Linked DNA regions of Homo sapiens. The protein of the gene in region 5 purifies or fractionates together with the protein of the main gene of each other region. This does not show direct contact. Each region holds a gene or a part of one and is shown on either strand. Other genes may lie near its edges.

The links.
Region 1: the proteins of SDHD (region 5) and SDHB purify together in Homo sapiens (affinity purification with mass spectrometry; one large-scale study listed by BioGRID and IntAct). This does not show direct contact.
Region 2: the proteins of SDHD (region 5) and PPIL3 purify together in Homo sapiens (affinity purification with mass spectrometry; one large-scale study listed by BioGRID and IntAct). This does not show direct contact.
Region 3: the proteins of SDHD (region 5) and TBC1D24 purify together in Homo sapiens (affinity purification with mass spectrometry; one large-scale study listed by BioGRID and IntAct). This does not show direct contact.
Region 4: the proteins of SDHD (region 5) and DHODH purify together in Homo sapiens (affinity purification with mass spectrometry; one large-scale study listed by BioGRID and IntAct). This does not show direct contact.
Region 6: the proteins of SDHD (region 5) and SDHC purify together in Homo sapiens (affinity purification with mass spectrometry; one large-scale study listed by BioGRID and IntAct). This does not show direct contact.
Region 7: the proteins of SDHD (region 5) and SPECC1L purify together in Homo sapiens (affinity purification with mass spectrometry; one large-scale study listed by BioGRID and IntAct). This does not show direct contact.

The regions. Positions count from the first base shown.
Region 1 is NC_000001.11:17,033,139-17,037,309, forward strand, and holds part of SDHB (succinate dehydrogenase [ubiquinone] iron-sulfur subunit, mitochondrial isoform 1 precursor), read right to left. Parts: intron 8-4,171; coding exon 1-7. UniProt on the Homo sapiens protein: Iron-sulfur protein (IP) subunit of the succinate dehydrogenase complex (mitochondrial respiratory chain complex II), responsible for transferring electrons from succinate to ubiquinone (coenzyme Q).
Region 2 is NC_000002.12:200,875,526-200,879,696, forward strand, and holds part of PPIL3 (peptidyl-prolyl cis-trans isomerase-like 3), read right to left. Parts: intron 1,513-4,171; coding exon 1,394-1,512; intron 1-1,393. UniProt on the Homo sapiens protein: PPIases accelerate the folding of proteins. It catalyzes the cis-trans isomerization of proline imidic peptide bonds in oligopeptides. May be involved in pre-mRNA splicing.
Region 3 is NC_000016.10:2,491,738-2,495,908, forward strand, and holds part of TBC1D24 (TBC1 domain family member 24), read left to right. Parts: intron 1-4,171. UniProt on the Homo sapiens protein: May act as a GTPase-activating protein for Rab family protein(s). Involved in neuronal projections development, probably through a negative modulation of ARF6 function. Involved in the regulation of synaptic vesicle trafficking.
Region 4 is NC_000016.10:72,018,744-72,022,914, reverse strand, and holds part of DHODH (dihydroorotate dehydrogenase (quinone), mitochondrial), read right to left. Parts: intron 1,792-4,171; coding exon 1,604-1,791; intron 554-1,603; coding exon 440-553; intron 1-439. UniProt on the Homo sapiens protein: Catalyzes the conversion of dihydroorotate to orotate with quinone as electron acceptor. Required for UMP biosynthesis via de novo pathway.
Region 5 is NC_000011.10:112,093,084-112,096,965, reverse strand, and holds the end of SDHD (succinate dehydrogenase [ubiquinone] cytochrome b small subunit, mitochondrial isoform a precursor), read right to left. Parts: coding exon of another isoform or gene 3,769-3,882; exon of another isoform or gene 3,757-3,768; intron 2,162-3,756; coding exon 1,996-2,161; 3' UTR 1,172-1,995; downstream 1-1,171. UniProt on the Homo sapiens protein: Membrane-anchoring subunit of succinate dehydrogenase (SDH) that is involved in complex II of the mitochondrial electron transport chain and is responsible for transferring electrons from succinate to ubiquinone (coenzyme Q).
Region 6 is NC_000001.11:161,352,043-161,356,213, reverse strand, and holds part of SDHC (succinate dehydrogenase cytochrome b560 subunit, mitochondrial isoform 1 precursor), read right to left. Parts: intron 1-4,171. UniProt on the Homo sapiens protein: Membrane-anchoring subunit of succinate dehydrogenase (SDH) that is involved in complex II of the mitochondrial electron transport chain and is responsible for transferring electrons from succinate to ubiquinone (coenzyme Q).
Region 7 is NC_000022.11:24,273,638-24,277,808, reverse strand, and holds part of SPECC1L (cytospin-A), read right to left. Parts: intron 1,110-4,171; 5' UTR 1,006-1,109; intron 1-1,005. UniProt on the Homo sapiens protein: Involved in cytokinesis and spindle organization. May play a role in actin cytoskeleton organization and microtubule stabilization and hence required for proper cell adhesion and migration.

The DNA.
Region 1 (4,171 bases), on a different chromosome or scaffold from region 5:
GCCACATCTAACAAAGAAAAATATCCAGTGGTATTTATGTAACGTTCAACCTCCCTACACTTTATCATAATATAATCGGAGACACCTGGATGTATTAGCTTATCCATTTGGTCTTCTCAGGTCACCTTCGGAATTTGTTCTGTAGTTTTGTTTTTGCAGATTCTTACATTTTAAGTACTGCACAGTTCTATTTTGATGATCACAGTGCAAACACATTTCTAGGAAATGGAAAGCTAAAGTAGTAGTAGACAAGTATGACACAACTTCCATACAGTGGCCGAGTTTTTGTTTTTTACTTCTGAAGCTCCCTGCAAAGTTTTTCCAAATAATTTATTTCAAATTTTAGTTTGATTTTTAGGATGTAGACAATAGTTTTAAATAGTAATTAATAATACATAACCATAAGAGAAGACATAGTACAGAGAATAAAAGACACCCAATCACTCACAGTCCCCCAGTCAAATCACTGTGAGCCTCCTAGAACATACAAGGGCAGTGACATGGTACTAAGCGGAGCATCCCTGGGCGTGGGACCTGGAGTGCCGGCCTGGCAGCCAAGAGACTGGTCTGCACCATGGCTGAGCCACTTACCAGCTTGCAGGCAAATGATTTAATTTCTGCCTAGGCATTTAATCCACTGAGTGCAGAGAGCAGCACCTGCATCCCACAGGATTGCTGGAGGTGAGTTAATACACACGAGATCTTTACAGCAGCATCTGACATATAAATCATAGTTTAACTATAATAATCATCATGCAGAAACTGTGATTCTACGGAAATTACTCTCTGAACCTCAGTTTATCTGTAGAGTTAATATTTACACCACAGGGTTACTGTGAAAATTACATAAAAATATGTAATTTTTCATAGTACCTGGCATACAGTAAGTGCTCCACAAATCTATTTTCTGGTTGCCACCCTGCCCCCATTCCACTCACTAATTTTCTATGCATGAGATTAAAAATATACTTAAAAATACGTCATTTCCTTTAGTACTATCTGTATTTCATTTTTTTTCTTTTTTTTCTTGAGACGGGGTCTTGCTCTGTTACCCAGGCTGGAGTGCAGTGGCACGATCTCAGATCTGTAACCTCCGCATCCCAGCCTCAAGAGATCCTCCTGCCTCAGCCCCCCAGTAGCTGGGACTACAGGTATGTGCCACCACATCCAGCTTAATTTTTGTATTTTTTTGTAGAGGTGGGATTTCGCCATGTTGCCCAGGCTGGTCTCTAACTCCTGGACTCAAGTGATCCTCCTGCCTTGGATTCTCAAAGTGTTGGGATTATGGGTGTGAGGCAATGGTGCGATCTCGGCTCACTGCAACCTCTACCTTCCGGGTTCAAGCGATTCTCCTGCCTCAGCCTCCCGAGTAGCTGGGATTACAGGTGCATGCCACCACACCCGGCAAATTTTTGTATTTTTAGTAGAGATAGGTTTTCCCATGTTGGCCAGGCTGGTCTCAAACTCCTGACCTCAAGTGATCCACCTGCCTCAGCCTTCCCAAATGCTGGGATTACAGGTGTGAGCGACTGCGTCTGGCCCATTATCTGTATTTGTATCAGCACTATGTAGACGTCCTTTCTGCTGGACCTCTGCTAACACTGGGAATTGGAAGCTTTAAAAACCTTTGCTATTCTGATACTGGAGAAGTGTTATTGTTTTCAGTGTTTTAAATCGAGACTTTTGAATACTACATAGGTTGAATGTTTGTCATAAATTTACTAATTTTTCTTTATTTCCCAATTATTTATTGAACATTTACTCTGCCAGGTTCTGTTCTAGATGCTGGGGATGTAGCAGAGAATAAAAGAGACGAATACCACCTGCCCGCACAAAGCTCTGTTCCAGAGGACTCATTCTAGAGACTCAGTCTGTCCACATTCTTTGCCTCTGTTTACCAGGGTCTTGGAAATTCTTTTTCATGATCTGAGGCTCTTATATATTATATCTGTTGCCATTTCTGCTTCCTCCCTCACTGCCAATAGTAATGTGCTATTTGACTTCTAATTTTGGTAACAGAATTTTAAACATACATGAGTTAAATGTTTACATTAATAAAGGTGGCTATTCTTTCTTTTATAACATTATCTATCACTTTTAAGCCTAAACAGACCACTGCCCTTCCTGAGGTCTGATAAATACTTTACATTTTTTTCTACTTAAAAAAAATTTTAAGTTACTCCCCTAAAACTGCAAAAACTGTATCAGTTGTCCCAAATCACTGACTAAATCCTCTTTTGCTTCTTATTTGTAATACCTTTCTCCCATATTTAATACTGGGAACTTAGATAAAATTGAGTCTGTTTTGTTGCTACATTTTTATTCTAATGATCTGCCTGTTCTTGTCCTAGCATATTTTAAATGACAACAACATCTTTGTTTTTTTTACATTACAAAGGCTAATATTTGCAGCCTATAAAAATTTCAAATTGGCCAGGTGGGTGGCTCACGCCTGTAATCCCAGCACTTTGGGAGGCACTTTGGGAGGCCTTGGCGGGTGGATCATGAGGTCAGGAGATTGAGACCATCCTGGCTAACGTGGTGAAACCGTCTCTACTAAAAATACAAAAAATTAGCTGGGTGTGGTTGCACGTGCCTGTAGTCCCAATTACTTGGGAGGCTGAGGCAGGAAAATTGCTTGAACCCCAGAGGCGGAGGTTGCAGTGAGCCGAGACCGCACCACTGCACTCCAGCCTGGGAGACAGAGCGAGACTGTCTCAAAAAAATAAATAAATAAATAGATAAATAAATAAATAAATTCAAATCAAAGGTAAAAAGTAATCCTGCAGATCATACTGGGACAGAGAAAAATATTAAAAAGTCAAAGTCCTCTCTTTAAGCTGTTTCATGCTAAATTTCCTAATAGGTAGGGCTCATTAAAGAGTACAACATAAATTTTCTCAGATTTTACATAGATACCAAAATTGTTTGATATTCTGGGTCCCTTGCATTTCTATAAGATTTTTAGAATCAACTTGTCAACTTCTGCAGAAAAGGCAGGTGGGATTTTGATGGGGATTGCAATGAATCTGGAAATCAATTTGGAGACCACTGCCTCCTTAACAACATTAAGTCTTCCAACCCACAAACAGGGCATGTCTTTCCATTTATTTATGTCTTCTTAAATTTCTTTCAACAATGTTTTACAGTTTTTCAGCATATAAGTCTTTTACTTATTTGATTTTTGAGACAGGATCTCACTCTGTCGCCCAGGCTGGATGGAGTGCAGTGTTGTGATCACAGCTCACTGCAGGTTTGACCTCCCAGGCTCAAGTGATTCTCCCACCTCAGCCTCCAAGTAGCTGGGACTATAGGCACAGGAAGGTCATCAAGCCCAGCTAACTTTTTTTGTAGAGATGGGGTTTTGTCTTATTGCCCATATAATTTGTTCCTAAGAATTTCTTTTTTGATGCTGTTATATGGAAAATAGTTTTTAAATTTCATTTTAGGATTGTTCATTGCTAGTGTATAGAAATCCAATTTTTGTTTTTTTAACAGTACTTACAGGCTTTTTTCTAGGTAAGCAGGGTTTTACATATATAAATATAAATATTTATATAAATATGAATATATAAATATAAATATTTATATAAATATGAATATATAAATATAAATATTTATATAAATATGAATATATAAATATAAATACATATATAAATATATATGTATACACACACACACACACATTTTTTCTGTAGAGACTAAGTCTTGCTATTGTTGCCCAGGCTGGTCTCAAAACTCCTGGCCTCAAGCAATCCTCCTGCCTTGGCCTCACAAAGAAAGTGCTAGTATTACAAGTGTGAGCCACCATGCCTAGCCTAGAAAAATACATTTATCTGCTAATATCTGCTACACGCCAGTATTTTCAGAAAAAGAATTATGCTGTTGTGAAAATGAAAGAATATAGCTATTTTTTGTGTGTGTATACATAGCTACAAAGTAGGGTTTCAGAGTCGGATTAGAAGGAAATAGAACTATAATTAAAACATGGTACAATATAAAATGAAGACTGACAGACATAGGTTGAAATAAACATGGACAAATTATGCATAATAAAAAACTAAACTACATTTGATTTCTGTATACCAGTTTTGTGTCCTCCAACCTTGCTGAATTTGTTCATTAGTTCTAATAGTTCCTAGGGGGCAATGTCTTATATTTTCTTTTCTTT
Region 2 (4,171 bases), on a different chromosome or scaffold from region 5:
AAAGTGCTGGGATTACAGGTGTGAGCCACCGCACCCGGCTTTTCTTTTTTTCTATCTTTTTTTTTTTAGAGATAGGGTATCATTGTTGCCCAGGCTGGAGTACAGAAGTGTGATCTCAGCTCATGCAGCCTGGAACTCCTGGGCTCAAGTGATTCTCCCACCTCAGCCTCCTGAGTAGTTGGGATTACAGGTGTGTGTCACCACACTTGGCTAATTTTTAAATTTTTTTTATAGAGATGGGTTCTGCTATGTTCCACAGGCTGGTCTTGAACTCCTGGCCTCAAGTGATCCTCCTGTCTCAGCCTCCCAAAGCACTGGGATTACAGGCCTGGGAAAGTTCTGTTAATTAAAAAAGGTGAATCAGCTGGCAAGCACCTTTTGTCTTTCCTCCCCTTTCCTCCCTGATACACAGAAGTTTTGATAAGAGCTGTGCTGCCAATATTATGACAGAGGCGCCTAGAACACTGGTAACAAAATGGAACCACCATGCCAGTCCATCTTGTTTAAGCCACTATTTTTCAGATCTGTTAGTTGCTGTGAAATGCTATCATTAATGAAAATGGACCAGCCTGGGCAACATAGTGAGACCATGTCTCTAAAAAAAAAGTGTTTTTTTTGTTTTTTTTTTTTTTAAAGTAGCTGCGCATGATGGTACACATTTGTGGTTCCAGTTACTCAAGAGGCTGAGGTGAGAAGATCACTTGAGACCAGGAGGTTGAGGCTGCAATGAGCCATGACTGTGCTACTGCACCATACTCCAGCCTGGCGACAGAGCCTTTCGTCTCAAAAAAAGAAAAAGAAAAAGAAAATAGATATACTATGTTAATTTGCATAACAATATTGAAAAATTACTGGCCTCTTTTACAAAATAAGGAAAATAAAGCTCAGGGAGATTATAACTTTCCCAAGGTCACAGGGTTGCTAAGTGGTAGACTTAAACTCCAGGTACGTTTAGCTCTCACACCACTCTTCTTTTCTTTCTTTTCTTTTCATTTTTTTTTTTTTTTTTTGAGGCAGAGTCTCACTCTGTCGCCCAGGCTGGAGTGCAATGGCATGATCACGGCTCACTGTAACTTCCGCCTCCCAGGTTCAAGCAATTCTCCTGCTTCAGCCTCCTGAGTAGCTGGGACTACAGGTGTGTGCCACCACATCCAACTAATTTTTTAAAATATTTTTAGTAGAGACAGGGGTTCTGCCACATTGGCCAGGCTGGTCTCGAACTCCTGACCTCAGACAATCTGCCCACCTTGGCCTCCCAAAGTGCTGGGATTACAGGTGTGAGGCACTGCGCTCGGCCTCACTCTTTTCAATATTAGTTATGCTACTGTCACAGCTAAGCATATGCACCACTTGCATTGAAATGCTAAAAGAAAACCATAACCAGAATACTCACTTTCCAAATACGGTGTATTTCATGTCCAAATGTGGCTGTTTGCCATAGGTGATGAAGAACTGAGATCCATTGGTGTTCGGGCCATTATTAGCCATAGATACAACACCTCTAACATTGTGCTGAAAAAGACACATCAAAGTATTAACTGTGTTTTTATATAACCATCCCAAATATAGTATTGAAACAAGACAGGCACACCTTTGTTTTCTTTTTTAAAAATATTTTGAGATTGGGGTCTCACTATGTTGCTCAGGCTGGTCTCTAACTCCTAGGCTCAAGTGATCCTCCTGCCTTAGCTTCCAAAGTGTTGGGATTACAGGTGTGAATCAGCACACCCAGCCAAGACATTCAATCTTTACCTTCACAATATTTAAGGGAGCAAGAAAACATTTAACCAACTTCTCTCTATTAGGGATAATCCAAATGTTCAGTTTCTGCCTTTTCTGTACCTTTGAAAACTTGTATGTAAAAGGTTAATATATCAAATAATATTTCTCAATTAATTTCATTTTCACTTTGAAGAAATACAGCCATGGACACTTTTTGCAATACCAACAAATAATAGAAATAATCCTTACATTTATATTAAGGAATAGTGTGCTGGAATGAAATGATCAGGCAGGCAACAAAACCAAAATGCCCACAATCTCTTCTCACATACAATGGACTCTTGCTAGTTTCTTTATCTGTAAAACAAGGGAGGCTGGACTAGTTCAAGGGTCTATTTATAACTCAGATGCTCACAAGGGTCAAGCAGATAAACTGACAATTGGGCAGAATGTAAACATTAGAGAGAGATGAAGTCTGGCAAAATGAATAGGCTATCTCTTGATTAATGACATTAAATATATATTTTTTAACTAAGGGCCACAGATAATGCATCTGTGGGTGTTCCACTCATGGGCAGTCAGTTTATAACCCCAGGACTGAACGATCTAAGAAAGGTCTCACCTAGCTCTACTATCATGATAGTATTTGTTTACAAGAGACAGTGTATAGAAATTAAAAGGACCTTACTGATAAGAATGAAGATGTAACTGTGAACTATGTTACAGGGAGGTGCCTGTAATACACTACAACTCCACCAATTACTCTAGCTTTAGCTATTCATTGGGTGACGCTAATAAGTCATAGAGAAGCACCTATATCAAAATATTAATGCTTGTCTCCCTAAAAGGTGTCCACCAATCAAATGTAATATTAAATACACATGTAATATTTAATACATACACAATATTTAATACATACACAAAAATATAGTTAATAAAAATGTAAGTTAATAAAATAAGCACCCATTAACATATTTCCCAGCTTTCAGAGTTAAAATTTACCAATTCATTGAATAATGGGAGCTCAAGAAAAAATAAAAGTTACCAATTAATTACATATATCCATGTGCTCCTCTCCATTTATTACCTCAGCCTCTACAAGAGGTAACCACTATTCTAATACCTTTTTTTTTTCATTTTTTCATTTTTTTTTTTTTTTAGAGACAGGGTCTCACTCTGTCACCCAGGTTAGAGTGCAGTGGTGCAATCATAGCTCACTGTAGCCTTGACCTCCTAGGCTTGAGCAATCCTTCCACCTTGGCCTCCTGAGTAGCTGAGACTACAGATGTACACCTCCATACCTGGCTAATTTTTTAACTTTTAGTAGAGATGAGGGCTCAATATGTTGCTCAGGCTGATCTCAAACTCCTGGCCTCAAGTACTTGTTCCTCTCACCTCGGCCCCCTAAAGTGCTGGGATTATAAGAGTGAGCCACTGTGCCCAGCCCTAACACATTTACACATGCCTAAACAACACATTCTTTCCTTTTCCTTCTGAATATAATTACATCGTAACATTTTAGTCTTCTGGGAAATGCTTTCTACAAATAACATTGTTACATTTCTAAGGTTATACATGTACATATAGCCATAGTTTATTACTATTTTTTTACTACTATGTGATATTTCACTACTGAATATACTACAATTTATCCACAATCTACATAGTGATTCATCTACAATCAGTGGACATTTGGGTTGTTTCTAGACTTTTGCTATTACAAACAGTACATCAGAACACTCCTGTACATGTCTCTTGGTGCAAACTTACAAGTTTCTCTTGAGTAAACATTTGGGAATGGAATTCCTGGGCCAGAATATATGAAGAGTCAATACATATCCACAATCTTGGTGTATAAGGTGTATAATATAATGGTTCTTTTTTTTTTTTAGACGGAGTCTCGCTCTGTCGCCCAGACTGGAGTGCAGCAGCACGATCTCGGCTCACTGCAAGCACTGCCTCCCGGGTTCAGGCCATTCTCCTGCCTCAGCCTCCCAAGTAGCTGGGACTACAGGCACCCACCACCACACCTGGCTAATTTTTTGTATTTTTTGGCAGAGACGGGGTTTCACTGTGTTAGCCAGCATGGTCTTGATCTCCTGCCCTCGTGATCCGCCCGCCTCGGCCTCCCAAAGTGCTGGGATTACAGGTGTGAGCCACCGCGCCCGGCCTATATAATGGTTCTTAACTCTGCCTGCAAAAGAATCATCTAGGAACCTTAAAATATAGTCTAAGTCCTAACCAGCCCTACTGACTTTATTTTTAGGAGGGCAAGGCCATGATCTGTTATAGTTTTAAAACTTCCAGCCAAGTGCAGTGGCTCACTCCTATAATCCCAACACTTTGGGAGGCCAAGACAGGAGGATCATCTTAGTCCAGGAGTTTCAGACCAGACTGGGCAACAGAGCAAGACCTCGTCTCTACAAAAAATCAGAAATTAGCTGGGCAC
Region 3 (4,171 bases), on a different chromosome or scaffold from region 5:
TAGAGACGGGGTTTTACCTGCTGGCCAGGCTGGTCTCAAACTCCTAACCCTGTGATCCACCTGCCTCGGCCTCCCAAAGTGCTGGGATTACAGGCATGAGCCACCGTGCTTGGCCCGCCTGGCTAATTTTGGTATTTTTTTGTAGAGATGGGGTTTTGCCATGTTGTGTGGGCTAGTCTTGAACTCCTGGGCTTGGCGTCCAAAGGTCGTCCCCGTTCAGCCTCCCAAATAGCTGGGATTACAGGTGCATGCCACCAGGCCTGGCCATTTTTTTTTATTTTTGGTAGAGATGAGGTCTCATTATGTTGCCCAGGCTGGTCTTGAACTCCTGGGCTGAAGTGATCCTCCTGCCTGAGCCTCCCAAAGTGCTGGGATTACAGATGTGAGCCCCTTTGCTGGCCTGGACCTGGTTTTTATAGATGCCTTAAGTGGGTTGTTGCCTTGTGTGCACAGCCCCAGAAATGTCGTGCGCTCTTTTTGAGTGAGGGTTTGGGGAACAAGAAAGAATCCAAGGGCTCCCTCGGGTCTTTTGCACACATCCTTGGCTCGGGGGTCCCTGTGAGTCCAGCACGTCGCCGGACCATTCGCGGCAGTAAACACAACTTGGGATCTGCATCTCCCTAAGGGAACTTCGCAAGGTGCACCCACAGCTTTTACTGTTTCCAGTTTAATATTCAACCTGAATCTGGGGCCAGCCGAGTGGAGGCTGGTGCTGCTCTGCCCAGCTCCTGTTCTGTTTAGAAACATGTTTATTGCCTTAAGAAGGAGCCAGTTCTTTCACCCAAACAGGATGGGCCTGGAGTTCCTCCAGAGGCTAGTGGGCCCATAGCAGGGAAGGAGGGATGTAAGCTGTGGATAACCGACCGACACGTGTAAGATTGTGCAGTGTGACCCAGGCGTGGCTGTGCGCATGTGAGTGGACCTGTCGGCCTGACCTTCAGGACCAGGGAAAGGGGGAGCCCTCACTGCCTTCCCTCCCAGGACGAAGCAAACCAATCAATGGTCTTAAGGGTTTCTTTTCTTCTGAGGCCTAGTCCTGCTGTGGGCAAGGTTTTTCCAGTGGGATACATTAAAATCAACTTCGGTGGCTCACGCTTCTAATCTCAGCACTTTGGGAGGCTGAGGCGGGCGGATCACCTGAGGTCGGGAGTTCGAGACCAGCCTGACCAACATGGACAATCCCTGTCTCTACTAAAAATACAAAATTAGCCGGGCGTGGTGGCACATGCCTGTAATCCCAGCTACTTGGGAGGCTGAGGCAGGGGAATCGCTTGAACCCAGGGAGGCGGAGGTTGCAGTGAGCTGAGATTACGCCACTGCACTCCAGCCTGGACGACAGTGCGGCACTCTGTCTCAAAAAAATAAATAAATAAAAAATGGCTAAAATGGTAAATTTTTTGTTTGTTTGTTTGTTTGTTTGAGACAGAGTCTTGCTCTGTCGCCTGGGCTGGAGTGCAGTGGCACAATCTCGGCTCACTGCAATCTCCGCCTCCCAGGTTCACGTCATTCTCCTGCCTCAGCCTCCCGAGTAGCTGGTACTACAGGCTCCCGCAACCACGCCCGGCTAGTTTTTTTGTATTTTTAGTAGAGACAGGGTTTCACTGTGTTAGCCAGGATGGTCTCGATCTCCTGACCTCGTGATCCACCCGCCTCGGCCTCCCAAAGTGCTGGGATTACAGGCGTGAGCCACCGCGTCCGGCCTAACATGGTAAATTTTATGCTATGTGTATTTTACCACACACACAAAAACACGTGTCGAGGTGTTTTCCCAAGACAGTGTCTCGCAGACGTACGTTTTACACTATGATTTTTACTTTTCAAGAACTGTTTTAAAGCAGTATTTGCCTTATAATAGGTAGGTGAATGTTCTAGCTGCAAGAGAAACCGGAGTGGTCTGGTCACTCAACCAAAACCTGCTGAAGCAGACCCCTGGGGCACACTGGGAACTTCTACCATCCCAGGTGGAAAGGTTAGTCTGATGTGCGTAAGCAAACCTTGCACTTCTGTGCGCAGGACGGTATCCTTGGGCCAGGGCAGCCACCTGTTGTCCAGAATCCCACAGGGCACGTCTTACCCACTCCTTTTATGTTTGCCTGAGCCCAGGGGTTGCTGTTCTTGGAGAAACACCAACCACCCCCACTTGACTTCTGGCCCATTCGGATCCAGAAATGTGCAGTTTTAAAGCTGCAGCACCTTCCATTTAGGTCCCAGCTCTCCCTCTGGAAAATGCCTGCTCCTCACCAGAGATTCCTCCCTGGAGCACCTGCCTGAAGCATAGCTTTCAAGCTGGTGGTTTTAGAAAGTTAAGAGCCGGCTTCAGAATTCCGACAGGGTGGGATAGCATAGGCTGTGACTTTCTTAGCACACACAGCTGGTTAAAGAGAACTGGGAACGGGCTGGGCGTGGTGGCTCACGCCTGTAATCCCAACACTTTGGGAGGCCGAGGTGGGTGGATCACGAGATCAGGAGTTCGAGACCAGCCTGGCCAACATGGTGAAACCCCATCTCTACTAAAAATACAAAAACTGGCTGGGTGTGGTGGCGGGTGCCTGTAGTCCCAGCTACTCAGGAGGCTGAGGCAGGAGAATCACTTGAGCCCGGGAGGCGGAAGTTGCAGTGAGCCGAGATTACGCCACTGCACTCCAGCCCGTGCGACAGTGCAAGACTCTGTCTCAAAAAAAAAAAAAAAGGGAGAACTAGAACGAAGCATCTCTTTGCTCAAAGTGATCTTCTCAACTGGGGGTTCCTTTTCAGAAGGCCCCCAGGGTGCAGGGTGGTGTTTAGGAGCCTGGAGTGGACCATGCTCGAGTGGAAAGGTGTTTTCAGCAGGGTCAGCCTCTTTTTTTGGTAGAGATGGGGTCTCACCATGTTGCCCAGGCTGGTCTTGAACTCCTGGCCTCAACTAGTCCTCCCACCTTGGCCTCCTGAGTAGCTGAGATTATAGATATGAGCCACTGTGCCCAGCCAAGGGCCAAGCTCTTGAAGCCCTTCTGGGAACTCTATCTCTAGCCTCTCATTACTCAGAATCTGTGTGATGTATTCCAGTAACTTCATAAGTTCTGTGAAAAGAAGGTATACTCCAAAGTTTGTAACGGCTTCTCAAAAGTCACTTATCTTAAGTGGAAGCCCTTCTAATACTTACACAAAGATTAAGGCAAATAATGTGGCTGCGCAACGTGACTCTCACTCGTAATTCCAGCATGGTGGGAAGATCACTTGAGGCCTGCGGTTCAAGGCCAACCTGGGTGACAGAACAAGACCCCATCACACACACACACACACACACACACACACACAAAATAAATAATAATAATAATAATAAACAAAAAAACAGGCCAGGAGCACTGGCTCACACTTGTAATCCCAGCACTTTGGGAGGCTGTGGTGGGTGGATTGCTTGAGATCAGGAGTTTAAGACCAGTCTGGGTAACATGGCAAAATCTCGTCTCTACTAAAAAGAGAAAAAATTAGCTGGGCGTGGTGGCGCCTAACTGTAGTCTCAGCTATAGCTGAGGTGGGAGGATCACCTGAGCCCAGGAGGCAGAAGTTGCAGTGTGCCGAGATGGTGCCATTGCACTCTAGCCTGGATGTCAGCACAAGACCTTGTCTCAAACAAAACAAAACAAGGCCGGGCACAGTGGCTCATGCCTGTAATCCCAACATTTTGGGAGGCCAAGACAGGAGGATTGCTTGAGCCCAGGAGTTCAAGACCAGCCTGGAGAGCATAGCGAGACCCTGTCTCTACAAAAAAATAAAAAATTAGGCCAGGGCGGTGGCTCTCGTCTGTAATCCCACACTTTGGGAGGCCAAGGCAGGCACATCACAAGGTCAGGAGTTTGAGACCAGCCTGACCAACATGGTGAAACCCTGTCTCTAGTAAAAATACAAAAAATTAGCCAGGCATGGTGGTGCATGCCTTTAGTCCCAGCTACTCAGAAGGCTGAGTCTGGAGAATCGCTTGAACCAGGGGCGAGGAGGTTGCCGTGAGTGGAGATCGTGACACTGTACTCCAGCCTGGGCGACAGGGTGAGACTCCATCTCAAAAAAAAAAATTAACTGGGCATGGTGGTGGACACCTGTCGTCCCAGCTACTCAGGAGGCTGAGGCAGGAAGATGGTTCAAGCCATTCAAGGCTGCAGAGAGCAGGGTCACGCCACTGCACCGCACTCCA
Region 4 (4,171 bases), on a different chromosome or scaffold from region 5:
ACCCAATTACAGTGTCTTGTCTGAGGCCCCCAGGTAGTAAGTGGTGGAACCAGGATTTGAACCCACGATGGCCGGGCTCAGTCTGTTTCCACTACTCTCCTATGCCACAGAGACCCGCTGTCCAGACAGGCTGGAGAGAGGAGTGAGAGAAAGAATTTTCAGTCCCAGTCAAGACTGGCCAAGGAGCCAAGCTCAAGCCTTAAACTTGCTGGATGCAGTTGACAAAAGAGAGGAAGAGGCATTAGAAAAACTCCTTCAAGCACTTATTCCAACATTCGCTTTTGACCACAGGGTGAGTTACACCATGACACACACCAAACCAGCCTTGAATACCAAGGAGAGGAAATCACAAAGAACGCCATTCTGGGCTAGCCCAGCTGGCCAAACGGCCTCTGCAGACCATGGGAGGCACACCCTGGGCCCAGGCCCCGACTCAAACCTCTTTGACCACACTGGCAATGTCCTCCTTATCCTGGCTGGTGAGGTCAGGAGCGATCTTCACCAGGACTGCCGGCCTGTGCACTCTCCGCAAGCCATCCCTCTCCTGCAGCACCTAGGGCGACACACGGCCAGAGCTGGGGACCCCGCAGACCACAGCCCTGCAGTGCAGCTGTGACCTACGCTGCAGGTCAGTGGGTTTCCACAATAGCGATCAAACTAAAGCAGAAACAATTTCTTTTCAGGAAAGCCAGCCCTCAGACGTGAGGAGTACAGTCGAGATGGATCCGATTCCATTCTTTTAGGCCAAGGGATCCCGTGGACATTGGCTAATAGCTCAAGGGTGTTTTAGACTTTTCTTTTCTTTTTTTTTTTTTTTTTTTGAGACAAGGTCGCACTCTGTCACCCACACTGGAGTGTAGTAGCATGATCACGGCTCACTGTAGCCTGCACCTCCCTGGGCTCAGGCGATCCTTCCACTTCAGCCTCCAGAGTATCAGGGACTACAGGTGTGCACCACCATGCCCAGCTAATTTCTGTATTTCTTGTAAGATGGGGTTTTGCCAAGTTGCCCAGGCTGGTCAGCTCCTGAGCTCAAGTGATCTGCCTGCCTCGGCCTCCAAGTAGCTGGGGCTATAGGCTTGAGCCACTGTGCCTGGCTAATTTTTAAATTTTTGTAGAGACAGGGTCTTGCTCTTTTGCCCAGGCTGGTCTCAAATTCCTGGGTTATAAGTGATCCACCTGCCTTGGCCTCCCATAGTGCTGGTATTACAGGCATGAGCCACGGTGTCCAACGTTTTTTAGACTTTTATTCCTAAAAGATAACCAGGAAATATTACCACATGTACTGGGTGATGAAGTCCTTCAGTTCACTCAGAGCTCTGGGCGCTAGGGTCAGAGTGACAAATGAGAGAGACGTGGTGTCTGCTCTTACAGACCCCGTGATTTATAGCAGCAGGGACAGATAATTTGTCACCGTCGCATATAATCAGTGTCATGAGAGGGGATCAGAGGGGACTCTGGGAAGGTATAGCCAGGGGTCCTACTGGTCTAGGTGCTAAGGACAGCTTCTGAGGGTGATGCTGAAGGTTCGCCCTGGAGAATGAAGGGGAGCAGGTGGGACAGGCTGGTGGGACAGGGCCTGGAGAGGGGTGCAGCTGCCCACCTTGGTCAGCAGGCGGCGCAGCTCGGCCTTTCCCTGAAGGCTCCGCAGCCCGGCAGTGTTGGGGCTGGACACATTCACCACCAGGTAGTCGGCCAGGGGGCCCAGTACGCGCACCCCTTCTGCGTAGTCCTCCGCGGCGTCCACTGAGGTCTTGTTCTTCCCCAAGTTGACCCCCAGAGGCAGTCCATCTGCAAACATCGCTGGTCAGGCCTGCACCCCGCACACCCTTTCCTGTGCCACCTTCTGAGGCTGCCCTTGACCAAACCACCTGTGGACAGCCGCGCAGGCCTTCCCTCCAAACCTGACCTGCCCGACACCGGCTGACAGGTGCTCAACTGCGGCCTGGGCCCGCCTGCTGACCAAAACCACTCACTGGCTTTGTCTAGCAAAGTCTGGGCAGCTACGAGGATGTTTTGCTGCATTTTGCCCTTTTTATTTTTAAAATTTTCATGGAAAATGGACAAATTACTGCAAATACTTGTGGGGCAAAAGATGGGCCTCATAAATTGAATAAAACTGAGAACAGAGAGAACTCAGTAGGCACATCAGGCCCGCAACTCTCACCTCAAGGAATGCTTGTTGGCCTTGGCTCGGTTGACTGGATGTACAGTTGCGAAGAAAAAACAAAATGAAAGAACATGTATAAAATACTGAAAAACAGGCCAGGTGCGGTGGCTCACGCCTATAATCCCAGCACTTTGGGTGGTCAAGGGCAGAGGATTGCTTGAGCCCAGGAATTCAAGACCAGTCTGGGCAACATGGTGAAACCCTATCTCTATAATTGAAAACTCAGCCGGGAGCAGTGGTGCACACCTGTAGTCCTAGCTGCTCGGGAGGCTGAAGTAGGATTGAGGCTCCAATGAACCGTGATCGCGCCACTGCACTCCAGCCTAAGGAGCAGAGCAAGACTCTGTCTCAAAAAAAAGAAAAAAAAAAAAAATATATATATATATACACATATATATATATATATATATATATACACATATACATATACACATATATATATACTGGAAAATGTTTTTTGTTTTTTTTTTTGAGATGGAGTCTCACTGTTGCCCAGGCTGGAATGTGGTGGCACAATCTTGGCTCACTGCAACCTCCGTCCCCTGAATTCAAGCAATTCTCCTGTCTCAGCCTCCTGAGTAGCTGGGATTACACGCATGTGCCACCACGCCCAGCTAATTTTTGTATTTTTAGTAGAGATGGGGTTTCACCATGTTGGCCAGGATGGTCTCCATCTCCAGACCTCATGATCTGCCCACCTCAGCCTCCCAAAGTGCTGGGATTACAGGCGTGAGCCACTGCAACCGGCCTAATTTTTGTATTTTTAGTAGAGAAGGGGTTTCACCATGTTGGCCAGGCTGGTCTCAAACCCCTGACCTCAAATGATCCGCTTGCCTTGGCCTTCCAGAGTGTTAGGATTACAGGCGTGAGCCACCATGCCCGGCCAAATGTTTTCAATTATCATGCCTAAAATGTAGAGGTGTAATTGTTTTCTAACTTATAATTTTAGTTCTCTGAGGAAAGGGACTCTCCCTCATATAATAACTGAGGGTACCCTGTATCTTAGGTGCTCCCTGGACAACCTGATTACTCCCCTAGCCTGGGCATCATTGTTAACACCTGCCCCTTTTTACTCTCAAGAGGGTCTCAGTTTACATGTAAGCAATTAGGTCAGCTTACTTAAAAATCCACAGGACTATCAATGGACTTGCATTTTGGACCTCCAGAAAAAATACATTTTCAGAAACACACTATGTGTAAAAGAAACGGGTTGTCTCTACTTGACTTCTTCTAAGTTTACTATCTTATCTGCACGGGGAGTGGTACATCAATGGTACAGGCTGTACTTTTGATCTGAGAGTTGGGGGAAGAATTAGAACACCAAGTAGCTCACAAAATGTGTTGTCAGGCCAGAGAGGATCAAACAACATCTATTGTACTGCTCACCACCTTCCCAACCCCAATCACACTCTCGCATCATCAGCAAATGAGATGAGTGTAGCTACTTTCCAGGGTGGGGACTGGAGGAGGGGATCAGAACCCAATTAGAAGCCGGGCGCAGCAGCTCACGCCTGTAATCCCAGCACTTTGGGAGGCTGAGGTGGGTGGATCAATTGAGGTCAGGAGTTCAAGACCAGCCTGGCCAACACGGTGAAACCCTGTCTCTACTAAAAATATAAAAATTAGTCAGGCATGGTGGTGGGCGCCTATAATCTCAGCTACTTGGGAGGCTGAGAAAGGAGAATCGCTTGAACCTGGGAGGTGGAGGCTACTGTGAGCTGAGATTGCACCACTGTTGCCTGGGCAATAGCGGGAGACTCTGTCTCAAAAGAAACAAAGAATCCAATTAGACAAAAGGTTTATCATAAGGTCTCCAAGCTTCCCAGTCTAGCACCCATCAAGCCAAGATCATCTGTAAGCTTGAATTCTTTTCCTCACAAGTAAACTGACTTGAAGGAGAATATCACTTTCATGTAGCTAACGGATTAGGAGTCATCTGCCCAAACTGACAAGATTTGGGAGTTAGACAGAAATTGCTGGATTACTCTGTCCCCAGAGGGC
Region 5 (3,882 bases):
TCCCATATTATCCAGAGTCACTGCCATCCCCATTTTGACTTTATGGAAGACTCCATTTCATCACTCCACTCTACAGCAGCAGTATACTGAGAGCTAGGGAAGGGAAGGAATGACACTACAAGGTGGGGAGGGGATCGTCTATAGAGAATTTTAAAACAATAAAATTGACTTTTAGTCCATTTGTTTTTTATCATCATCAAGCATCAGCAATTCTAAACAATGTCAGAATATTGTTTATATATTCTCTCCCACCAGGGTGGACTGGTCCCACCACCACTATCTGTTGGTGTGCCACTGCTATTCAGGCATCACCCTCTTTTGAAACCTTTTACCCACCCCAAAACAGAATTAATCACCTCTTCCTAAACCCTAATGCACACTTGAGTCTCTACAAGACCACAGGCACATCAAGGAGAGCATGTCTTTAACCCCTAGTACACATTCATAAACACATACTCTTCCTTTGCCTCAGCTTCCCAGTAAGGTCCTTGGTGAGTAAAATGTGCTTAGTCCCAGTTACTCTATATTGATAGAAGACAGCATCATGCCTTACACTCAACTCTTAGACCAGACTAAATACACATAGAACATAATATGAATTCCAAAGGCTGGTATTCACAGAACACCATAATCTGGACATAGTTCTTATTCCTAAATACTAAACCTTATACTCTGTTTATACCAAATTACTTATACACTTGGTATTTTTCTGCCTATTACAAGTCCTTTTTGTTTTCCAGTACTTTGTGTCTGATTTACCTAACTGCTAAGCCCCAGAAGAAAATTTAAACACTCAATTTTGGCTGGGCGGGGTGGCTCATGCCTGTAATCCCAGCACTCTGGGAGGCCAAGATGGGTGGATCACGAGGTCAGCAGTTCGAGACCATCCTTGCTAACACGGTGAAACCCCATGTCCACTGAAAATACAAAATATTAGCTGGGCGTGGTGGTGGGTGCCTGTAATCCCAGTTACTCGGGGGGCTGAGGCAGGAGAATGACATGAACCTGGGAGGCGGAGCTTGCAGTGCTCCGAGATCACGCCACTGCACTCCAACCTGGGTGACAGAGTGCGACTCCGTCTCAAAAAAAAAAAAAAACCCAATTTTGTTTTCATGCTGTGGATGCAATGGACACCTAATTCTAATGAATAAAACTACTGATAGCTAATATATAAAAGCATAGAAGACACTTTTATTATATAACATTTTATTTAAAAAAATTATTTTCATAGAATACATTTTCACATTAGAGATTCCCATTGTGCGAAAATAACAATTTATTACTTATAGTTTTATATTTGTGGACAGATTGTTTTAGAACAAGTAGAATACATTTGGGAATTAAATCTCAATTTACAGTTGGTAGTATTTTGATACATCTACAGGGAAACTTGCCCTTAAATGGAACTTCTGTATATTCAGAAGCACTCCAAGCGTTTCTTCCTAGGATTTAGAAATTTATAATATGAGCTATCAGCATTTCCTAATTTTAAAATTTCCCTAGTATATGTAACCATCAGTAGGTGGTATCTACTGTCTAGAGAGGGAAGTTTTCGAAAATTAAACACTGTCTAATTTTCTGCAAAGTTTTTATTCATGAATTAAGAGTATTTCCCTTTGTCCATTATTCCCAAGGCAAATATGGAAGTTTGATCATATACTAATCGTAATAAAGTTGGATTCTCTTTAAGAGATTGATAAATTGAAAGGCAAAAGCTGATATATCATGTTTAGTTATACTGTGAGTCTTATAAGAAGCTGGGAGGCAACCCCATTAACTCACCAGAATATAGAACTCAGTCTCACAACTTAGATATAATTCCTCTCAAACCTTTTCCTCAAAGATTAAATTCTGAAAATAATCTTGTGATTAAGAGAAGAAGGCTGTCCACCAATGGACTTATCTGTTATTTCTTCCTTATTGTGAGCTTAATGGCATGACAAAGCAGAGGCAAAGAGGCATACATCAATTCTTCAAAGTATGAAGTCAAAAAGGTCAGAGCTTCCACAGCATGGCAACAGCTTTGCAGATGCCCACATCGTGATAGTTGAAATAGCAAAGCCCAGCAAAGGTTAAAGCTGAAAGTGCCAAAAGCCCTGCCTTGGCAGCTTTCTGCAAGGCATCCCCATGAACATAGTCAGTAACAACTTGTCCAAGGCCCCTAAAGAAAAAGAAAAAATCATAACATCAATAAAAAACCACAGTGAAATTAGAAGACTATACAGATAACTTGGCTGCAAAAAAACAATCTGTCAAGTTCAAATGCAATGTCTCCATTTGCCACTCCACTGTCACTGTTTGCTTCTTTAGGGGATTCTGTATAGCCTTTTGCGTGTGTATGTCAGTAAGTCTATTTCTAGTGACTTTTCTTTAGAGACAAAGTCTTACTCTGTTGCCCACGCTGGAGTGCAGTGGCCTGATCATAGCTCACTACAGCCTCGAACTCCTGAGCTCAAGTGATCCTCCTGCCTCAGCCTCCCAAGTAGCTGGGACTATAGGAGCATGCCTCCATGCCCGGCTAATTGTTTTTTATTTCCTTCTATTTATTTATTTATTTATTTATTTATTGAGACAGAGTCTCGCTCTTTTGCCCAGGCTGGAGTGCAGTGGCACGATCTCGGCTCACTACAACCTCCGCCTCCCGGGTTCAAGTGATTCTCCTGCCCCAGCCTCCCAAGTAGCTGGGACTACAGGCGCCCACCACCACACCCAGCTAATTTTTGTATTTTTAGTAGAGACAGGGTTTCACCATATTGGCCAGGCTGGTCTCGAACTCCTGACCTTGTGATCCGCCCACCTCAGCCTCCCAAAGTGTTGGGACTACAGGCGTGAGCTACTGCGCCTGGCCTGTTTTTTATTTCTTTAAAGATGCGGTCTCACCATGATGCCCAGGCTGGTCTTGAACTCTTGGCTGCAAGTGATCCTTTCACCCCAATAACTAAAAATAACTAAAACTCTACAGTATTTTTAATTAATTCAAAAAGAATTTATTAAGTAGATATCATGTGCCAGAATCTGTCATAAATGTTGGGAGTATAGTAAGTGAGACAGCATCCCTACCCTTATGGAATATACTAGTGAATGAGAAGGAAAAAGTAAATATATATGTACTGAGAAGAAACACTTTAGAAAGGAAGACATGAATGAGAACATCCAAACCAAAGTGGCATCTCTAATGAATAGTAAGATTTGTGTGGCTGGAGCACATGGGTGAAGCAGAGATCAGAGGAAGGCAGGGGTCGGTTGCATAGGGTCTTGAAGGTCATGATAAGGAATCTGAATTTTATATGAAATATAATAGGAAACCACTGATACATTTTAAGCAGGGAGTGCCTGAGATTAGGAGTGACCTAATTTTACTATTTTTATAACAGTTTTATTGCAATGTAAGTCAAACGCCAGAAAAAATTCACGCTTTTTAGTATATAATCCACTGGTTTTTAGTATATTGAGTTGTGCAATCATCATTTAATTCCAGAACATTCTCATTACCCCAAAAAGAAACCCTCTACCTCTTAGCCCACTACCCAACTACAAATTTACTTTCTGTCTCTATGGCTTTGCCTGTTCTAGACATTTCATATAAAAGAACCCATACACCACTGGGCGTGGTGGCTCACACCTGTAATCCCAGCACTTTGGGTGGGTGAAGTGGGCGGATCACCTGATGTTGGGAGTTCAAGACCAGCCTGACCAACAAGGAGAAACCCCATCTCTACAAAAAATACAAAATTAGCCAGGCGTGGTGGCACATGCCTGTAATGCCAGCTACTTGGGAGGCTGAGGCAGGAGAATCGCTTGAACCCGAAAGGCGGAGGTTGCAGTAAGCTGAGATCGTGCTGAGCCGAGATCGTGCCGAGCCAAGATCGCACCATTGCACTC
Region 6 (4,171 bases), on a different chromosome or scaffold from region 5:
GAGACAGACTACTTGGGATCTCATCATAAACTAAATGTGCCATATGTTTTAGTATGTTATTCCTCCTTTCAACATCCGTCTCTATAAAAACTTCACTTGCCAGTTTAGACATCAAGCCTTGCTATATCATCTAGTTCATCATCTAACTAAGAAAAGGTAAAAACAGTGTACTCAGTCCAGAGAAGAGTCAGAAAAAAAATTAGGTTCTCTTTTTTTTTTTTTTTTTTTTGAGACAGAGTCTCGCTCTGTTGCCCAGGCTAGAGTGCAGTAAGCGTGATCTCAGCTCACTGCAACCTCCGCCTCCTGGGTTCAAGCCATTCTTGTGCCTCAGCCTCCCAGGTAGCTGGCCTTATAGATGCATGCCACCATGCCTCGCTAATTTTTGCATTTTTAGTAGAGACAGGGTTTTGCCATGTTGGCCAGGCTGGTCTCAAACTCCTGGCCTCAAGTGATTCGCCCACCTCAGCCTCCCAAAGCGCTGGGATTACCAGCATGAGCCACTGCGCCTGGCCCTTTTTTTATCTTTATCTTCTAGTGTTGCTACCTCTGAAGAGAGGAAAAATTTTAAATCATTCAAATCTCTATTACACAAAAATTTAAATTAAAATGAATTAGAGACCTAAATGCTAGAACTAAAACTATAAAACTCTTAGTAGAAAGCATAGAAATAAATCTTCATGATCTTGGATTAGGCAGTGGTTTCACAGATGACACCAAAATCATAAATGACAAAAGAAAAAACAGATGAATTGGATTTCATCAAAATTACTAACTTTTGTGCTGCAAATAATACCATCAAGAAAGTGAAAAGACAACTCAAAGGAATGGGAGAAAATATTTGCAAATCATGGAGGACTTTTATCCAGAATACATAAAAAACTCTTACAACTCAATCAATAAAATGACAAATGGATCTGAATAGACATCTTTCCAAGGACGATAAATAAATGGCCAATCAGTGCATGAACAGGTGCTTAACATCATTAGCCATTAGACAAATGCAAATCAAAACCATAATGATATAATGTAACTGCTATGTGTATATACTTGGAAGATTATTTCCCTATGTGAAAGAAAAAGTATGAATATTTTAATGTCTGACAGGGCTGCATTATCTGTTGGAGCTCAGTGGCTATCGACCACCAATGACTGAGAAATCAAGTATAACAAATATGAAACTCAAATTAGAAATAAGATGTTATCTTGGCTGGCACGGTGGCTCATGCCTGTAATCCCAACACTTTGGGAGGCCAAGGTGGGCAGATTATTTGTGGTGAGGAGTTCAAGACCAGCCTGGGCAACATGGTGAAACCCCATCTCTACTAAAAATACAAAAATGAGCCAGTTGTGGTGGCGCACACCTGTAGTCCCAGCTACTCAGGAGGCTGAGGCAGGAGAAACTCTTGAACCTGGGAGGTGGAGGTTGCAGGAAGCTGAGATCGCACCACTGCACTCCAGCCTGGGCAACAGAGTGAGGCGTGAGGCTCCATCTCAAATGACAAAACACACACACACACACACACACACACACACACACACACACACACACAAAGAAATAAGACATCATCTGTAAAATGGGAATTAAAAAAAAAAAAAGAAAAAAAGAAGAGGCCAGTTGTTTCCCATAATCACCAAAAAATATTTTGGGGAAGCAAAAAAGAGTACCCACATCACAACTCCCAGAGACCCTGATTTGATAGTTTGGGATCATTGCTAGAACTGTGGTTTCCAAACTACACCAAGCTGCCCTGGGGTACCAAAGCAAACTCACAGGTCCTACAGGATATTTTACATATTCAAATGAAACACAGTGATACTTAACATCTGTTGGTCATCATGTGAACCACTACTAGCTCAAGGTAGTTCAGTTTCAACATTAGATGTTAGATTTCTTTCAATGATCACATCTTTGCAAAGCTGGGTTTTCAGCAAAAATGAAGTACTGTGTGAAAATCACTGTGGAACAAGAAATGAGGGTGGCAGTATCCAATCTGATTTCTAAGGTTGGAGGAGTTGTATAATATCCAACAGCATATACATCCTATTAGTAAGTAATTATGATTGGCTGGGTATGGTGGCTCATGCCTGTAATCCTAGCAATTTAGGAGGCTGAGGTGGGAGGATTACTCGGGCCCAGGAATTCAAGACCAGCCTGGGCAACATAATGAGACCCTGTCTCTACTAAAAATAAGACAAAAAATAAAAACAAAAATAAAAAATATTAGCCAGGCACAAAGTGAGCTGTGATTGTGCTACTGCACTCCAGCCCAGGTAACAGAGTGAGATCTTGTTTCAAAAACAAACAAACAAAAAAGTATGATTATTTAAGAATGAAATAAAAATATTTTTTTCTTTCCATTTATGTGGATGATTTTGTTTTTGCTTTTGTTTTTCATAGAGACGGGGTCTTGCTATGTTGCTCAGGCTGGTCTCTAACTCCTGGGCTCAAGCGATCCTTCTGCCTTGGCCTCCCAAAGCACTGGGATTATAGTTGTCAGCCACTGTGCCCAGCCTATGTGGATGATTTTTTTTAAAAAATGTCTACTCAATGGCTAAGAAATAAATAAGCTGTTTGGATCTAACAAACTAATAAAACAAAAGTGTTAGGTATTTACCTTGACTTAGGAGCACCATGAAAATAATTACTGAAGACACTGAGGTAAACCTGAACTCAAACAGTTTGATGAACATTTGGGAGGAAGATATGACTCAAGAGGGTTCAGAGTCTTTGACACTCTGGATAGATGATAAGCTATTATAGAAGACTGCAGGAACCCCTCTTTTGGTAGTTTTGATAGGAAATTCAAAACTATCTTTTGAATTTCAGTGCCAGCACAAAGCTCTGAAACTTCAATAGCCAAATATATGCCTTAGATATCTGGGCAAACTCATCCCTGATCTATGCATCAAATAGGACAACAGGCTCACAGCTGAGTCCCAGGGATGGCCACCCACACCAATATTAACCAACAGAAAACCAGACCCTGATATGGTGTTATCCTAGGATAACACCACCTACTCTCAAATGACCTACGAGAGTCAAAACTCTTGGAAATACTAGGATGTGAATAACAGTGTCTTCAGCTTTTGTTTTCCTATGAATAATACAGAATTATGTCAATTAGTTTAATCAATTCAAAAAGAGAAGACTGCCTCTAAATAAGTCAAATGTTCTCAAAATCATTCTACTACTACATACCCCCACACCAATTTTTTCTTTTTTCTTTTTTTTTCTTTGAGACGGAGTCTCGCTCTGTCGCCCAGACTGGAGTGCGGTGGCACGATCTCAGCTGACTGCAACCTCCGCCTCCCAGGTTCAAGCAATTCTCCTGCCTCAGCCTCCCGAGTAGCTGGGACTACGGGTGTGTGCCACCACGCCCGGCTAATTTTTTTGTATTTTTAGTAGAGACGAGGTTTCACTACATTAGCCAGGCTGGTCTCAAACTCCTGACCTCAGGTGATCCACTCGCCTTGGCCTCCCACCCACCTCGGCCACTTCAGTTTCTTAAGCTCTTAAATGAAGATACTCCTGTTTCTCAGATTATTATGAGGGTTAAATAATTATGTAAATGTTTAGTAAATAATGGCTATAGCAATAGTTGTATTTGAATTAGGTATTTTTCTGATGGGTTGAGTCCTTAAACAAAAAACATAAAATGATACAGTCTCTGGATATACATAGAATACTGGTTATTTCTGACTGGCGGGATTATGGGCAACTTTTCTAAGTATACATTTGTATAATATTTTCATTCTTGGTAATATGTTCTTGTAATCAGGAAAAATTTTTTTTTATACAAATCTCTGGGAGGTCAAGGAGATCTGGGATCATTACCAGATTCCAAGCCAGATATAATCAGGAGAGAGATCATTTTGGCTGGCTGCCTCACTAATTTTCAAAAAAGGCTCTACCTCTTCAAACAGGAATATTAATCAGTTAATTCAATTGAAAGCTACTTTAGCCAAAGCTTTCATCACTACAAGTGAAAAACATATGAGAATTAAATATGAGATTTTCTGAATTCTCCTCTGATGTTCAGTATATTGGGCATCAGGAAACTGACCCCACTCCTAGAATCTGAGTGCCTCAGAGAGTCCTCTAACAGCTGAACAATTTCAATTGGGAAAATAAAGCCACTGAAGCTGTCCTATCTAATCACTGAGAAAAATT
Region 7 (4,171 bases), on a different chromosome or scaffold from region 5:
CCAAAGTGGCAAAAACGCAAATGTTCATCAACTGATGGACAAATAAAGCATGAACAACTGATGGACAAATAAAGTATATCATTCAGCATATAAGAAATGAAGTGCTAATACATGCTACAACAGGGACAGACCTTGATAACATTTTGCTAAATGAAAAAAGCCAAACAAAAGGTCACATGTTGTATGATGCCATTTACATAAAAATACCTAGACTAGGCAAATCCATAGAGACACAAAGATCAGTGACTGCCCAGAGCCAGAGGGAGTGGTGAATGTGAAATGACTACTAATGAGTACAGACTTCTTTTTGAGGTATTGAACATGTTATGGAATCAGATGGTGGTGATCAATGCATAACTTTGTGAATATACCAAAAACCACATGAAAGGTACACTTTAAAAGCCTGAATTTTAAGGTATGTGAATTATATCTCCATAAACCTGTGATTTTGTTAATATACGCTTATTTGCAAATGAATACATGGATAATGAGGAATAATATGAAAGGTTAATGACAACCTTGGTGATAGGGTACCGGAGACTGGGAGAGGAAGATAAGTGTTGAGGTAGAAGAAGACAAAAAATAAAAGACCAAAACAATAATCCAAAGCCAGGGGCCATGAGTTGGGAGATGGAGCAAGACGAAGTGTACAAAGAAATGAGCATAAATCATAAAAATGAGGGAACTAGGGTTGAAAAACCCAGTAAGTAGTTTGTAATGGGGGAGACGAAGCAAACCTAAGTAACTGCAATGATTCAACAGAATTTGCAGAAAATGCAGAAGGGCGAGAAAAACAATGAAAAAATGGATCAGAAGATTTAAAATTGGCTCTACCCCACCAAAGTTTTAAAAAGCAAGCAAGAAGAAAATTCAGTTGCTCCTGGGCAAGAATTCTTGGGCCCAGTGGGGTAGAACCAAACCATGATAAGGAGACACCAGTGTTTTGTAAGCAAGAGAATATATTAAGGAGAGAAAAGGGGCATTTATTGGGAGAAAAGGTCTCACTGTGATTGTTCTGGAATAAAGTAGCCCCATCGGACTGCCTCAGGAACTCATGATGGAAGAGGTGCCACTGGAAAATGGCTTAGTCGGGATCTTCCCCAAGAACACTAGAAGAGAGAGAGGAAGAATAGAATAGCTTTAAATTTTAGCAGATATTTCTTTTTCTTGTTTAATTAAAATAAACCTTATTGACCTAATATTTTTGAGACTGGGCTCTTGCAATGCTGCCCAAGCTGAACTCAAACTCCTAGGCTCAAGAGATTCTCCCACTTCAGCCTCCTGAAAAGCTGGCACTACAGGTGCGCACCACTGGGTCCAGCATAATGGCTATTTCTTGACAAATCTTGACAATGCCACCAGTATGTTTTTCTTTAGAGACAGAGTCTCGCTTCGTAGCCCAGGCTGGAGAACAGTGGTGTGATCCCTAGCTCACTGCAGCCTCAAACACCTGGACTCAGGAGATCCCCCTGCCTCAGCCTCTCAAGTACCTGAGACCACAGGTGCGCACCACCACACCTGGCGAATTTTATTTTTTTTTATTATACTTTAAGTTCTAGGGTACATACACCTGGCTAATTATAAAATGTTTATCTGTACAGACAGGGTCCCGTTATGTCGCCCAGGCTGGTCTCGAACTCTCGGCCTCAAGCAGTCCTCTCCTCTTCACCTTCCAAAGCCCTGAAATATGCCCACATCCAGCCTGCCACCAGTTTCTTTGCATACTTCTTTCCTAGGCTTGACCAAGACCTTTACTTTCTTCTGTGTACAGCTCAGCATTGAAAAAAAAAAGTTTAGGCTGGGCACAATGGGTCACACCTGTAATCCCAACACTTAGGGTGGCCAAGGCGGGAGGTTTGCTTGAACCCAGGAGTTCCACACCAGCCTAGGCAAGATGGCAAGACCACGTCTCTCAAAAACAATTTTTGTAAAATTAGCCAGGTGTGCTGGTGCGGGCCTGCAGTCTCAGCTAGTGAGAAGACTAAGGCAAGAGGAACCCTTGAACCCAGGAGTTCAAGGCTACGGTGAGCTGTGATCACCTCTCCAGCCTGGGTGATAGGGTGAGACTCAGTCTCTGAAAACAACTAAAAATAAAAAAAGTTGAATAATGAGTCTTCTTTTTAGAGGCAATGTATTTTTCCTCTTTAACTTTTTGTTTTCCTTAGGCTATATGCACAATAGACAAAGTTGAAATTTAATCTTAATCTCTTAAACCCTTACTGTCCAAACACATCAAACTCAAAAAAAAAAAAAAAAGGTGAAAGGTGTACAAGAGAAAAAAGGGAAGTGATCTGTGTCAAATGTACATTCCTTCCACAATTTGGGATAAAAATGATGCCTACCTGGTCTCTGGGTGCCAAAATAAGACATTAGAGACACTCCCCTCCTTCAAGAAATAAAATTGGAATCAGACACTAAGGTACAATTAAACAGACTTTGAAAAGTTGGTACGCACTACTGGGAGGTGTCTCACAGCTGTCAGGGTCAAGTGCAACTAGAATAAAAGCTCCTAAGGGCAGAAACTAAGTGGCTCACTTCCTCTGTAACACTGCCGTGCCCAGCACTGTACCAGCACCCCAGCAGAGTCAACAACTTTCTGTCAAGCCACACACTTACGGTCTCATTGTCCAGTGGAGGCCGCAGACGAGACATAGTGTGCCAAATCCCAAATGCACAGGGTGCCAGACAAGTCTGCAGGAGGCAGGAGGACTAGGGAAGCCTTCCAGGCAAGGTGATGCCTGAGCTGAGTTGTTTTTCTTTTGAGTTTGGAACATTAATTTAATCGGAGGAAAACAAGGGACATGAAAAGGGCAAGGAAATAAGAAAATGAGCTGAGTTTTGAAGGCAATGATCAGATGAAGTGAGAGAAGAATATTCCAGCAGAGGGAGACAAGGAGACTGCAGAGATTTCAAGGGGCCAAGAGCTGTTCAGTGCAGCTCAGTGAAGCACCTAAACAGAGGTAGGGGAAGGAGAACAGGGGTCAAAGCCCAGTATTGAAGTGTTCTGGATACCAAGCTAAGGAGACCTTATTACGAAGGTACTGGGGCTGCTGAAGGGTTTAAATGGGAAAGTGATTGTGAACAGATTAATAGTTTGGAAAGATACAGGCAGAAGTAAACCTCTGGATTTAACCAAAAAATAAAGGACAGAACCACAATGAAGATGTTTGGAAAAGATCAGGAAAAACACTGTTAAAAGATATTCACTCTCTTCTCTTATTTACAGATTTCCTTTATGGAATACCAAATTATTCTTTGAAAATAGAGAACTCAGAAGTGGCTGAGAGCAGTCAGTCAGTCTTCAGAATGTAAAAACTACTATTCTGAAGAAGTAGATATTACATTATTAATTTCATTTCAAGATGCTTTAAAAACGTGCCTTTTGATACACTGCAGGTTTTTTAAGAGTATGTCACAATAACTCTAAATCTTACTTGAAATTAATAGAAGAGCACTATAAATTTTAAAGGCTTCACAGACACAGGGATCATCTGTTATGTTCACTTTGGAACAGATCATAATTGTCCCTCCCTCTCAACATACCCAAAATACGTTGTTTAAGGCTACTTTCCTAATGGTCATGTTATTTCACAGTAAAAGACTGAGGTCACAATGATTTCTGAGCTGACAGAAAACCCCATGGGGGTTCTTTACCTCGCATCTAGTCTATTCAGTACTAACAATTCCAACCACCAGAAAGAATTTCCCTGCCTAGGCTTATTTGTTGGCACAACACAAAAAAATCTCCTGGGGCTGGGTGAGGTGGCTAGTGCCTGTAATCTCAGCACTTTGGGAGGCCAAGGCAGGCGGATCACCTGAGGTCGGGAGTTCCAGACCAGCCTGACCAACATGGAAAAACCCTGTCTCTACTAAAAATACAAAATCAGCCAGGGGTGGTGGCACATGCCTGTAATCCCACCTACTTGGGAGGCTGAGGCAGGAGAATCGCTTGAACCTGGGAGGCGTAGGTTGCGGTGAGCGGAGATCATGCCATTAGACTCCAGCCTGGGCAACAAGAGCGAAACTGTCTCAAAAACAATTATATCTAATAAAAAAGATCTATTTAACAATGATCAGAATAGGAACATCTTTAATGCCATGCAAATTTAACAGCTTTCTCAGTGGATTTCTCAGTAGACTGTGACCAATGATCTCAAAATAAACTCATATT